Linked DNA regions of Homo sapiens: regions 1 and 2 are each linked to region 3. Evidence: fine-mapped expression QTL. A gene starts in region 3. Each other region holds a variant in brackets. All regions are shown on one strand. Distances are from middle to middle.

What was found. PIP is the estimated chance that this variant, and not a neighbour inherited with it, causes the effect. A credible set is the group of variants that fine-mapping cannot tell apart.
Region 1: its variant is the best candidate, but not a certain one, in a credible set for the expression of VCAM1 in monocytes after interferon gamma (Fairfax 2014, PIP 0.90).
Region 2: its variant is the best candidate, but not a certain one, in a credible set for the expression of VCAM1 in whole blood (TOPMed, PIP 0.85).

The regions. Positions count from the first base shown.
Region 1 is chr1:100,622,162-100,626,406 of GRCh38, forward strand. No RefSeq gene overlaps it. Among named protein-coding and RNA genes, the nearest start is that of LINC01349, 23 kb to the right of the region's middle. RefSeq lists a silencer at 420-718. The variant C/CACACACAGACACACAG (reference allele first, on the strand shown) is at 1,797.
Region 2 is chr1:100,743,928-100,748,172 of GRCh38, forward strand. No RefSeq gene overlaps it. Among named protein-coding and RNA genes, the nearest start is that of VCAM1, 26 kb to the left of the region's middle. RefSeq lists enhancers at 2,039-2,128, 2,219-2,268. The variant A/T (reference allele first, on the strand shown) is at 2,381.
Region 3 is chr1:100,717,778-100,722,022 of GRCh38, forward strand. It overlaps VCAM1 (vascular cell adhesion molecule 1), which reads left to right and starts at 1,965. Exons shown (of 9, transcript NM_001078.4): 1 at 1,965-2,147; 2 at 2,699-2,974. The coding sequence starts at 2,084.

The DNA of each region.
Region 1 (4,245 bases), 96 kb before region 3:
CATCACTGTGGGAGGTTAACACTCACTGAGGGGTGGCAGTACCCTCTGCATTTCTCTGGGAAACTCCAATGATTCATCCAAAAGTGTGAGAAGCCAAGCAGCTTTTATCACCCAGGAGACAGCTGTAACCTGACCTCAATTCATGCCAAAGAAGCCTGAGGAAAGTGCCCTGGAAGTGAACAGCCTGCTCATGACTCAAGGAACTCAAAAGTCAGAGTTCTGACCAGTATTGTTGGGGTGGGTAAAAGAACTTCACTCCCTCAGATCTGAAAGTGTCCTTGCCAGAGGAGAGGGAGACCTTATTTCAAGTGTGTTTGAATAAACATGACATACATAAACTTGATTTTCCAGGTTTTGGAGAAAGCATACATTTGTCCTCTGCATCATGAAATAATGTCCTTGGTGGCTCCTTTCAGGGCCTGTGCTGCACTCTCCTTAGTGACTATTAGCATTGGAGTTGGACAATTTAAGGGCAGGAGTGGAGACCTGCTACTTATAAAGGATGACTACACTTATTTAGGGATACTGCTCACGCTGACTCTCAGAGCAATTCTTTTGTTCCAACAGCTGTTCCCAGGGTAGGGTAATATTGGAACAGAGGCTTATGCTGCAGTATCCATTGAGTGGGACTGAGGCCCCTTCAGTAGCTGAAAATCCCCACTTCAGTGCTACTGCTTCAGCTACTGCAGCTCTTACTGTCTTCAAAAACAATGGTAAGGATTCCTTTAACCTCAGAGGAGGAATTAGCTTTTTGCAGAGACTACAAAGAATCCATAGGATACAAACATTTCTATAGTCCAGGAAGGAGTCCCACATATAAAAACAAAACTGTAATATATTTTATAAGTGATTTGCCTAAATATGTGAGGCTGTATTCACTCAGTTTCTCAAGAAGCATTTCTTGAGAAGCTACTGTGTGCCAGAGCCTCCTTAGGGGGCAGGAACTGCTTATTTATCTTCATATCAACATCCCTAGGTAAGTGCCTAGCCCATCGTATGGGCTACAGACTATGCAATGCTATTTCCCTTAGCCCCACCAGAGTTCAGGGTCAGACTGATGGGCAGGACTATGAACAGATCTTCTTTCTCTCCTTGAAGGTAACTAACCTTCCATGGGACTTGAAGCTTCAGATTTTGGCCTTAACCAAGTCAACTAGCTCAAGTCAGAGGGGCAGTGATTATTTGAATTGCCAAGGTATTACCTAATGAGAATCTTTGTGACTAAGCTCTTAAAGTTGAAACTTAAGTAACATTAGCTGAAAAACTTGTTGGATAAACATTGCTACTCCCTTGAAAATTCCGGGAGTTCCAGTTTGGTTGCTGACCATTTTTTACCATTTATCTATTTGTTTAGCACTAACGTTTCTTAAGCTTCCAATGTATATAGAATGCTATGCTGGGTTGTGGGAAATACAATGAGCTATGCTCCCTGTCTGCAAGTCGGTCACATTTTAAGTGGGGGTGCAATAAATGACAGATTCAAACCACTGAACAATTATTAACAGAGAAAAGCAACTTTTATGGGCAAAGGCTTTCGGCAACTCCAGGCACAGTCTCACCCAAGGCCTTGATTGTGGCACTGCTTCTGTCACAGAGAATAAGAGTGAAATGTTAGAAGACTGTTGAAACACTGCGGAGTTAATGTTATGTTCCTTTTCATCTTTGGGTCTTTGTACATGCTGGTTCCTTGTCTTCCCACCACTACCCCTATATCATTTATCTAATTAAAACTCATAAACATGAATGAGAAGCCCTTTTTGACCACCAGCCTACAAACAGACACACAGACACACACA[C/CACACACAGACACACAG]ACACACACACACACACACACACACACACACTGCGTTGTCCTTCCATTGAGGTACCAACAGCACACTATAATTTCTCCATTATGATAGCATTTATTACAAGGTATTATGATTTCTGTTTAACTTCTCTGTATCCCTCCTGCCTGCTACATTGTAACTTCTGTGACTGCAGGGATATATCTGTTTTGTTCACCATTATATTGGCTAGCATGTAGCAGCCATTCAATAAATACTTGCTGAATGCATGAATGAACGGCTGAATGGCAGAACCAACATTTGAGTAAAATTTTCGTGTATTGTTTACTTTGTGCTATAACTTCCTAGGTATTTTATGGATCTTCTTTCTGTGGGGTTATATATAGTATAAATTTGTTGCAATATTATATTCTTTTTAAATGCCTCAGTCACTTGTTAAATTTAGTGCTTGTTGCAGAAGGGTATAATGTTACTGATAGGAAAGCCATAGTCTTGATCCCTATATCGAGGCCAAATGGCTTCTTATCTGGAAATCTCTGCCTTAAATTGAGCAGTATCTAGATTAGATGTTTTGAAACTATGTATCACTCACTATGGTGGGCAAATAGTTCAGACAGACTAGGAGACGGGATATGAGAAACTTAGAATAAGCTACAAGAAGAATTCTAAAGACACATGACCCATTAAATTCCTTTTTCATTGAAAATCAGACCAAAATCTGTGGCAAAAACAGAAAACGTATTCCGGAAATATGGCTGTAGAACTGAAGACTAAATAGCAAGCAGTGTTTAATCTGAAGTAATGAATGTTATTTCAAGGAGCAAAGAAGCTAACACTTGCAATAAATCTTTGTTTTGAAGTATCTTTCTCAAAGGTCATCAAAATAAGTTTTAATTTAGATTCCTAAATCCAGTTTCTGCTCTGTTAGTTATTGGGGATTTTTTGAATAAATAATCTACGCAGAACTGTGGACTCTGCTCTGCTTTTTCAACCCCATGGTGTGGTCATCCAGAAAGGATTTCTTCTCCGCTCTAGGCTTAGAAATGGGGTACCTCCTGCCTGATGTATCCTATGCTTTCCAGAACCTGAAAGATTAAGATGAATCATTACAAGTGAAATGACCCTAGACAGAGAACAAAGAGGGCTGGCACATGTTTGCTGTAACATTCCGGGAGAGCTCTTCATCCCGTTTACATGTTCTTGAGAGGGTGCCTTCCGTGCTGTGATGAATGAGCCACCCAGACCTCCCGCTACCACACAGCAATTGTTTAGTCAGAGATCCTGTGCATCTGGGTCTTTTTTTTAATCAGCAGGTTCTAAATAAAAAACAAAAAACAATAACAAGCCCACCCTCTCTGAATATGACTCTCTGACTCTCTTGTGTTTCTTGTTTACATTTTATTGTGCGAATGTGATTCTGCTTCTTAGCCTAGTGCATTTGGATTTGTTGTTCACACTGAGCATAAATTGCCAAACACTCAACTTTAATCTAATTGTACATACTATAAACAGAAAATGTTGACGTTAAAAGCATTTCCATAATCACAGATTGGGTGTATGGATGAGCAAGTGGATGAGTTAGGCCTTTTGTCATCTCAGTCCATAGCTTGATCCTTCAGGTATTCAAAAGGAAACGGGGACTGTCTTCCACTGATGACCTCACTGATGATGAGGTTCATCTGCCACCATCTATAGTGAGTGAAACTTTATGGTGTAGTTGTTAAGTCTCAAATTCAGAGAGACTTAGGATCAAATCTCACTCTGCTACTTTCTAGCTATGTGACCTTGGGAAAGCCACATGGTGCCTTGAAGACTCAGTCTCCTTAACTATATTATAAGAATAATAATATTCCCTATGCCAAAGGGATCCTGTGAGATAATAACATCTTAATTGAGTTAAATTATTTAAGAGTTAAATGAGATAATGGATAAAAATCATGGCACATTTTGAGCACTTCATAAATATTAATGATAACGATCCTTATTTAAACGTGCCCTGCATTCTAAAAATGAGAAGTAACTTTCTGGCTGAAACCAACCCCTGAATGGCAACAGAGAAAGCTGTTTCAACAGGGTTGAGAAAAAAGCTGGGGGATAAAGTAATGTTTCTAATCTTAGAGTTTAAGAGAAAATACATTTTTTAATTCACTTGGTAAATTAGAGATCTTTTAGGGACACCAGAAGAAGGCACTTTCTGAAAGAGTTAAAATGATTTCCTTAGAGTAAACAAATCTCTCTCATAGAATTTTTGCTTAGACTAAGTTGATGGGACATTCATTAAGAAATAAACTTTTCATCCTCGCTTGGGTAATGCAACCAGGGAACGAGTAAATATCCCGGGAAAGCCAACTTGCTATATGCAGGTACTATTTCTTAAAAATGTTATTTTTATCTATCAAAATAATATTACTGTTATTAAGTATCATTGAGGTTCAATCCTGCGACAGAAACTGTACTTAGCTATAGGGAATCAAA
Region 2 (4,245 bases), 26 kb after region 3:
ACAGCTAAAGCAATGCTTAGAGTGTAATGTATAGCACTAAATGTCTACATTGTAAACAAGGTCTCAAATCAATGATCTATAGTTGTACATAGGAAACTAGAGAAAGGAGATAAAATAAAACTCAAAGTAATCAGGGAAAAGGAAAATTTAAAGATAACATTAAAAATAATAAACAGGCAAACAGTGATTCAATAAAACCCAAAACTGGTTATTTGAGAAAAATAGCAAAATTCATAAACCTCTAGCCAGACTGATATTGGGAATGAGAGAGAACACATCACTCCAGATCATGTAGACATTTGCAGGAAAATAAGAAAATTATAAACAAGTTTATGCCAATAAATTTGACAACAATGGACAGATTCCTTGAAAGAAACAAATTATCAAAGCTCATTGAAATGGAATAGACAATGTGAATAGCTCTATATCTAATAAAGAAGTTAAATGTGTGGTCTCAAAAGAAAACTCCAGGCCCAGGTGACTTCATTGGTGAATTCTACCAAACATTTAAAGATGAAATATTACCAATCTTACATAAATTCTTCCTGAAAATGGAAAACGAGGGCCTTTTTTTAATATCAGGACTTCAACTGATTAAATGAAGCCCACCTACAAACTAATCCGGAGTAACAAAAGGCAACAGATCAGTGGTTGCTTTGGGGCAGGATGGGAGGTAGCGAGGGATAAATTGCAAAGGAGCACAAAGAAAATTTTTGAATGATGGATATTTTATAATACTAATTGTGGTGATAGTTTCATGGATTTCACATATGTCAGACATCAAATCGTATAGTTTAGTATGTGCTGTTTATTATATATCAATCATACCTCTATAAAGCTGTAAAAAATAAAATATTTAAAAAGAATCGCCAGGTGCGGTGGCTTACACCTGTAATCCCCGCACTTTGGGAAGCCAAGGCGGGCAGATCACGAGGTCAGAAGATCGAGACCATCCTGGCTAACACGGTGAAACCCCGTCTCTACTAAAAATACAAAAACAAAATTATCTGGGCGTGGTGGCGGGCGCTTGTAGTCCCAGCTACTCAGGAGGCTGAGGCGGAAGAATGGCGTGAACCCGGGAGGCAGAGCTTGTAGTGAGCTGAGATCGTGTCACTACAATCCAGGCTGGGTGACAGAACGAGACTCCGTCTCAAAAAAAAAAAAAAAAAGAATCTATGATATCATATATACACATTTAATACATAAAATAGAATTATGTATACTGTGGATATATCCCCAAATACATTAAACTAGTATTTTAAAAATTGTACCTTTTTTGACAATAAGATCTGGAAATGTTAAGTTTTGTTCTTTTATTTCTTTGACTTTTCCAATCTGTCCCCTCTTTACCACAAATATCCACATTGCTATGGAAGATTTCAGATCGGTACAAAAAATGCAAATAGAACAGTTAATGAACTCTTTTTAGACTTCAAAGGTAGTTTCTTGAACTATGACTACATACAACAACATGGGTGACTCTCACAAAAAGAAGTAAAAGAAACAATTGGTAAAAGAGACCATACTATATAATTTCATTTATATGTAGCTCAAAAGCAGGCAAAACTAATACATGGTGTTAAAAGTCAGGATATTAGTTACTCCTTTGGTTACAGTGACTAGAAGGAGTAGAAGAGCTCCTTTTGGGTTCTGTTTTTGTTCTGTTGCTTGATCTGGGTGGTGGAATTTTTAATAAAAATTTACATTTCATAGGCAAATTCTTGAAAATCAAGAGCCTAGACGGATGGGGGGATTAGAGTGTATGCATTGGAAAGAGAGCAAAGAGAGAAGCAAATTACCTTGCCCACCTCCCTCCCACTTTTCATCTATCCTGGGTAATGAGAAGGAGAGTTATGTGATAAGACTTTATAGGAGACAGTATAACTTGTGTTCAAAGGGATAACGTGGCATAGAGAGGCCTCAGATAAAGGAGAGATTTCAACACAGAGAGAATGGCAAACACGAGGAAGACTCCTGCAAGCTGAGCCAAGGCATTCAGAGAGACCATACTTGCCTTACACTAGAAACCATCACATCTTTGCAGGGAAGCCAAGTCAGCTGTGCTCATCACTGCCTAGAGATGGATGCCTAGTAAACAGCTGCCTATAAACCCTTTTCATTTTCGAGTAAGATGCTGTACATGACCTGAAGTTTTGCTGAGTCCTAGCCCTTGTCAATAACCCAGGGCACTATAAAGTCCCCTTAAGGACAGGGTTAGATTCTTTATTCTTGCTGATTTTGGTTAGGAGGGGCTTTAGGCTGGGCGCGGTGGCTCACCACCTGTAATCTCAGCACTTTAGGAGGCCAAGGCAGGCAGATCACTTGAGCCCAGGCGTTTGAGACCAGCCTGGGCAACATGACGAAACCCCATCTCTACCAA[A/T]AAGTACCAAAAAATTTGCAAGGAGTGATGGCTCATACCTGTACTCGCAGCTACCCAAGAGGCTGAGGTGGGAGAACCACATGAGCCCAGGAAGTCGAGGCTGTGGTAAGCTGTGATCACACCACTGCACTTCAGCCTGGGTGACAGAGTGAGACCCTGTCTAGAAAGAAAGAAAAAGGAAAGAAAAGAAGGAAAGAAAGAGAAAGAAAGAAAGAAAGAAAGAAAGAAGGAAAGAAAGAGAAAGAAAGAGGGAGGGAGGAAGGAAGGAAGGGAGGGAAAGAAAGAAAGCGAGCCTTTAAAGGGACGTCACAGAAATGAGATGGGTAAAGGAAGGCAGGCAAGTCTTAGACCTGGATGGTAGCTGACAACTTTGGGGAAGAAGAAAACTTTTTTCCCTGACTCTCCTGGTCTCTGAAGTGGGAGTGATTGCTGTTGGATGCAATCACCTTCTCTGGCTGACTGCCATTAAAGTGAAGCATAGAAGATACTTGCCAGGGCTTTCCCTCTGCAGCAGATATTGTTTATAAATCGGAATATGAAACTATCTCATTTATTTGTCCAATATTCTACTGGGAAGGAAGTAAATGGTTGATTTCAGTGGAGATACACTAGCACTTTCATAATATTATAATATTATATCAGTAAACTTTTAGTAACCTCATAGATTTCATTGTCTGGTTTTCTTAGAAATGGATTCAAATCTCACTGTAGACTTTTGATAGTATTGGTTCTCAGCTGCTAGAATATTTTCTGAATTTATGGGAAACTTGCAATCTCTTATTCTGATTTTGTGGTAGTCAAACCATGACTAAATAACAGGTTGAAAAAATTCATGGCAGTCTACATCATGTAACCATCACCATCACCTTTTCTGCTCTGGATGAATAATGTAGGAAAATTATCAGACAGAAATCAAGATTGCTTACAAATAAAGAAAAGTCTATACAGGCTCACAAACATTTCTTGAGGAAATGCATGTTCAAATAATGATCTAACAAAGAAATTTTTTAAAGTCTGTTTCCCATATTGAATCCTCAGAAATGTCTCTTTTGCTCTGCTAATTGCAGATTTGGGGAATATGCTAGTACCAATCAAAGTGACCACTAAAATTACTGGGGAAGGCAATAACTGGGGTCAATCATCTTATATATTAAGGAGCTTCAGTTTTCTTTTGTGTAAAATTAAGAGTTTTGGCCAGATAAACTTTAAGATCCCTTCCAATGGGTAACTTTTTCCCCTCACTTTATTTTAGATAAAGTTTTCTTACATTTAGCCAAACAGAGGCCTAGGGAATCTTTTTTGTATCCTTTGCTTAATCAACTTCAATGGAGTCTTGAGGAGAAAAATAAAATATTTAAACTAATCCTAACACTAACAAGTAATTTCTGCTATGGATTCATAATGGCCAGGCTTCCCTGCAGAGAGAAAAGGAACATTTGTAATGCTCTTGGGAAAAGCTTTTGTTTTAGTCACAATGATAGTGAAAATTTCACTTCTGAAAAAAAAAAAAAAGAAAAAAAAAAGTGTGCCCTGGCTTTTCAGGCTTTGCTGCTATTGAAGAGCATGGTTTCTCTCAAAAGGGGCTAATCTGCAAGGCTTGCTTGAGAAGAGTATAACAAATTGAATGGAACCAAATGTCTGGGTTTTTTAGTGAAGAACAATGCTATCAGGAGAGAGCATTTTATTGTTTTTAGTTCTTTTCTCATTGAAAGGGACTTTGGGGGCATTATGGAGCAGTAAAACATTGCAAAGGCAATGTTTCAGTCTTGAAAAGAAGAAGAATGAGGAGACGACATTGATTTTGTGGGTAAGGCGGGCATGGTGAATCACCACTAAATTGAATTGTATTGTGATGAATTTTAACT
Region 3 (4,245 bases):
AATGCTGAGATGAAAAAATGAAACCATATGAGTTAGCAAAGTAGAAAATATAGGCATATTAATCAGTAAATGCAGAATGATAAATGCTCCATCAATATGCACTTGTTGTAGTGAGGCCACCGAGGAGGGTGCAATCCTCTCAACCTGGGAGGAGCAGGTAGGACTTCAGATGTCATCCAACTCAAAGATATAGTGAGGGACTTGATCAAACATTTGCCAAGACCACTATGAGTTAAATGAATAGATTAGGCATTTCTCCAATGTTGCAAGCTTCGAATCATATCCAAACTCAGAACAACATAGCTTGGTCATAATGATCCCAAGGATCCTATTGGCCATTGTCTTTGAGCCTCAAAGGAACATATTAAAACTCCATAATACCCTTTTGATCTATTCTGAAGTTAAGTAGTGAATTTACATGATGATGACACAAACACTGTAAAGGACCTCTGGGTTACTTGTTTATAAGCTAGTATTTCCTGAATCAATTTTTCTGATCCCTAGATATTTGGTAGGTGAAGTCATACCTATATATCCCCACACCCTAGAACAGCATCTCCAACTTATTTTTCCCTCCTTGTCTTTTAGTGGGAGCCACATCAGTATCCAAGAGGAGATCCAGAAGCCTCTCCAACCAGGTAGGGACAGTTATAGATTCCAGACCTCAGCTATGGCCTTTGTTACAGAGTACAAATGTTATATAGTACAAGTTTATTGTACACATCCCATTGAGTCTCTGAGCTTTAGAATTTTCTTGTAGAATTTAACAGTTTTTTCATGCCGTATTTACATATTATTGCTAGTATTTAGAATTTTCTTCTCCAAATGTATAACGTTTATTATTGCATTTTTTGTATCCACTAAGTGGAAAATCATGCATTAGATATTGTAGAAGTAGATACAACAATGAACAAGAACTGGTCCTGACCATGAGAGGAACTGATGATCCAATGGGGGAGATAGACCTGCACGTGTTTAATAAAAGGAAGTGGCTATTCCGGTTTCTTTTTGATGGGCAAGCATTTTGCAAGGCCTTGGGCTATGTGTGTGCAAGGCTAAGCCAGTTAGTTAATTGGGATTTTTTTAAAAAGGCACTTCACTGGGGGGAAAAGGAACATAGAGTTGGTTATTGTCCCCTTGCCTATAATAAAAACCTATTATTTTTAATTTTTTAACTGGGTTTGCGGTTAAATCTCACAGCCCAAGAGATTTGCCACTTCAGATGGATTCCATACACTTGCATTTAAGTATGCAAAAAAATTCCAATTATCCAGCAATTTAACCAAATTATTGGTAACTTTTCTAAAACAAAAAAAAATTGTTTCCCTTGTTTTGGCAGCAATTTCAGTTACAGTCCTTTACTTTCTACTCAAGAAAATAGTTTCAAAAAGTTGATGTTTGTTGCTAAAAGAACTATTTTTATGAATAAATATAAAACTAAGAAGTTATGGTGTCCCTTTTTTAAAAAATGACTCATCAAAAGAAATAACTTTTTCCTTTCTCTTGTAAGAGAAAAAAATTAATCTCTTTTAGAATTGCAAACATATTTCCTTGATGGAGAAAATCAATTCACATGGCATAGTCGTTATTTATCCAGTTCAAAAACCAGAGTAGAATTTACTACTCTGTCTCCATTTTTTCTCTCCCCACCCCCTTAACCCACATTGGATTCAGAAAGCTTCATTCTGCAATCAGCATTGTCCTTTATCTTTCCAGTAAAGATAGCCTTTTGGAGTCGAAGATGAGGAAAAGCCTGTATTTTATAGTCTTGGAAGTGTCTTCTTTTGCCAGGACAGAGAGAGGAGCTTCAGCAGTGAGAGCAACTGAAGGGGTTAATAGTGGAACTTGGCTGGGTGTCTGTTAAACTTTTTTCCCTGGCTCTGCCCTGGGTTTCCCCTTGAAGGGATTTCCCTCCGCCTCTGCAACAAGACCCTTTATAAAGCACAGACTTTCTATTTCACTCCGCGGTATCTGCATCGGGCCTCACTGGCTTCAGGAGCTGAATACCCTCCCAGGCACACACAGGTGGGACACAAATAAGGGTTTTGGAACCACTATTTTCTCATCACGACAGCAACTTAAAATGCCTGGGAAGATGGTCGTGATCCTTGGAGCCTCAAATATACTTTGGATAATGTTTGCAGCTTGTAAGTTATTTCCCTTCATCTGTTTCAAATGTTAGCATTCAATTTTAGCCCTGGTTTTGGCTTCAGTCAGTTTTGCGATAGTAGTGAAGTAAAGACACTAGGATTTTAAACAGTAGGAAAAGTTAATTTAGTCTAACTTTTAATATGCAATTGAGTTTTGCTATATACCATTGTACTGTCATAGTTAGAGCTGAAAATTGATGTTTTTGGTATCTTTTTTTCCAAAGGCAATTGAGTAATTTGGATTCTGTCTCTAGTCGGTCTGTCTCTTTAGTTTCCTATACTTGACAATGAGGTCAAACTTAGCAAATAACAAAACAGCTTTGATAAATGGGCATCAAGGTTGGAACTGAGAATTCTCTCTACTGAAGATGATTCCATAAACTTTTTTGGCAGTGACTTCGGTGCTTTTTGGCTACCTTGCAGTTAGTTTGAAGCAGCTTAGGAAAGAGATCAGTCTGATCATATTTTAGACATTATACAGAGAAGAAGGAGGAGAATACTAGACAAACTAGTGGTAAATTTGCTTCTGTCTTTTTTTGCTTTTGCAGCTCAAGCTTTTAAAATCGAGACCACCCCAGAATCTAGATATCTTGCTCAGATTGGTGACTCCGTCTCATTGACTTGCAGCACCACAGGCTGTGAGTCCCCATTTTTCTCTTGGAGAACCCAGATAGATAGTCCACTGAATGGGAAGGTGACGAATGAGGGGACCACATCTACGCTGACAATGAATCCTGTTAGTTTTGGGAACGAACACTCTTACCTGTGCACAGCAACTTGTGAATCTAGGAAATTGGAAAAAGGAATCCAGGTGGAGATCTACTGTGAGTGCTTTAGAAAATCTTTGTTTTTCTCTCAATTTTACTTTAAAATCACTTTTTAAAAATGATATTTTAAAAAAAGTTTTAAAATGGATATTCATGTACAGATTCTTGGCTAAAGAACATACAACATCAGGAAAGCTAGGGACAGCTAAGGCCAACATGAGAGAGAGCAGGAATCCAAATCTTGGCTTCTATTTCTACCTCTGCCACAAACACAGTGACCATGTATAAGACTCAACCTCTCTGGGCTCTGGTTTCCTTAGCTGTAAAATGATCATTTCTAAGTTTCTTTTTGTTTTATTAAAAAATATTTCCATTTGATTACATCCTTACATGTTTACTTGCTTATGTGTCTGATTGATTTATGAATTCCATCCTTCAGGGATTTTCTATTCATTTATTCTTATGCAATTTGATGCTTAAAATTAGTTTAAACATTAAGTAGATCTATAATTAGTAATATGTATTAGTATAAAAGTGTTCTTCTTAGACATAATTGTTAATATCTGGAAACATTTCAATCATTTGACTTTGGTGTTGACACATTTAGGATTTTTTTTTGGTTTTTTTGGTGCCATGAAGCCTTGGTGCTCAACCGCTCAACTTCAAAGATATTTATATAATGAACTAGATTTGCCTCATGAAAGTGAGTGGATGTCCCTAGTTTACCAGCCTGACAAAATGCATCCCACTCCATTCTCCATTCAGCAAACAAAGTTAGCAAGAGGAGTAAAAAACTAACCAGACATAAATCATTTGCCTTTTGTTACTGATGGCCTCTCTTTCTAAAAAACTGAACCCATTTACGGTCATGTCTTCATGAAGACCTCATTTGATTATAATTACTTTGGTTTCGTTTTATTGTACCGGAGCTCAACTTTTCCCAGTAACCTTAATTGATTCTGCAACAAACCGCATGTGTTGCTCAAGCTTCCCAAGAAACTGTGCTTGGCCGGCTGCTTTCAATTATGCTGGTTGTATGTGCATAGTTTATGTCTGTGCAGCCTCCCGAGCTCCTTGAAAGCTTCCCTTATGTAAATACAGGGAAAAGTAGCAAGTTCTTATGTTACCTGACATCGAACTGTGTGGATTAGAGGAACATTTCTTACAGAATATGAGGGACAGAAATTATTGCTGGAAAAATGAAAAATACCATGTTTCTTCACATAGGAAAGAATTTCCAGCTCCTTTGTCTTTTGCCCACTAGTACCAAATAGTTGAAGATTTAAGAAAGAGAAATGAAGACGCTTCTGGTTTTAATTATCTTGCCT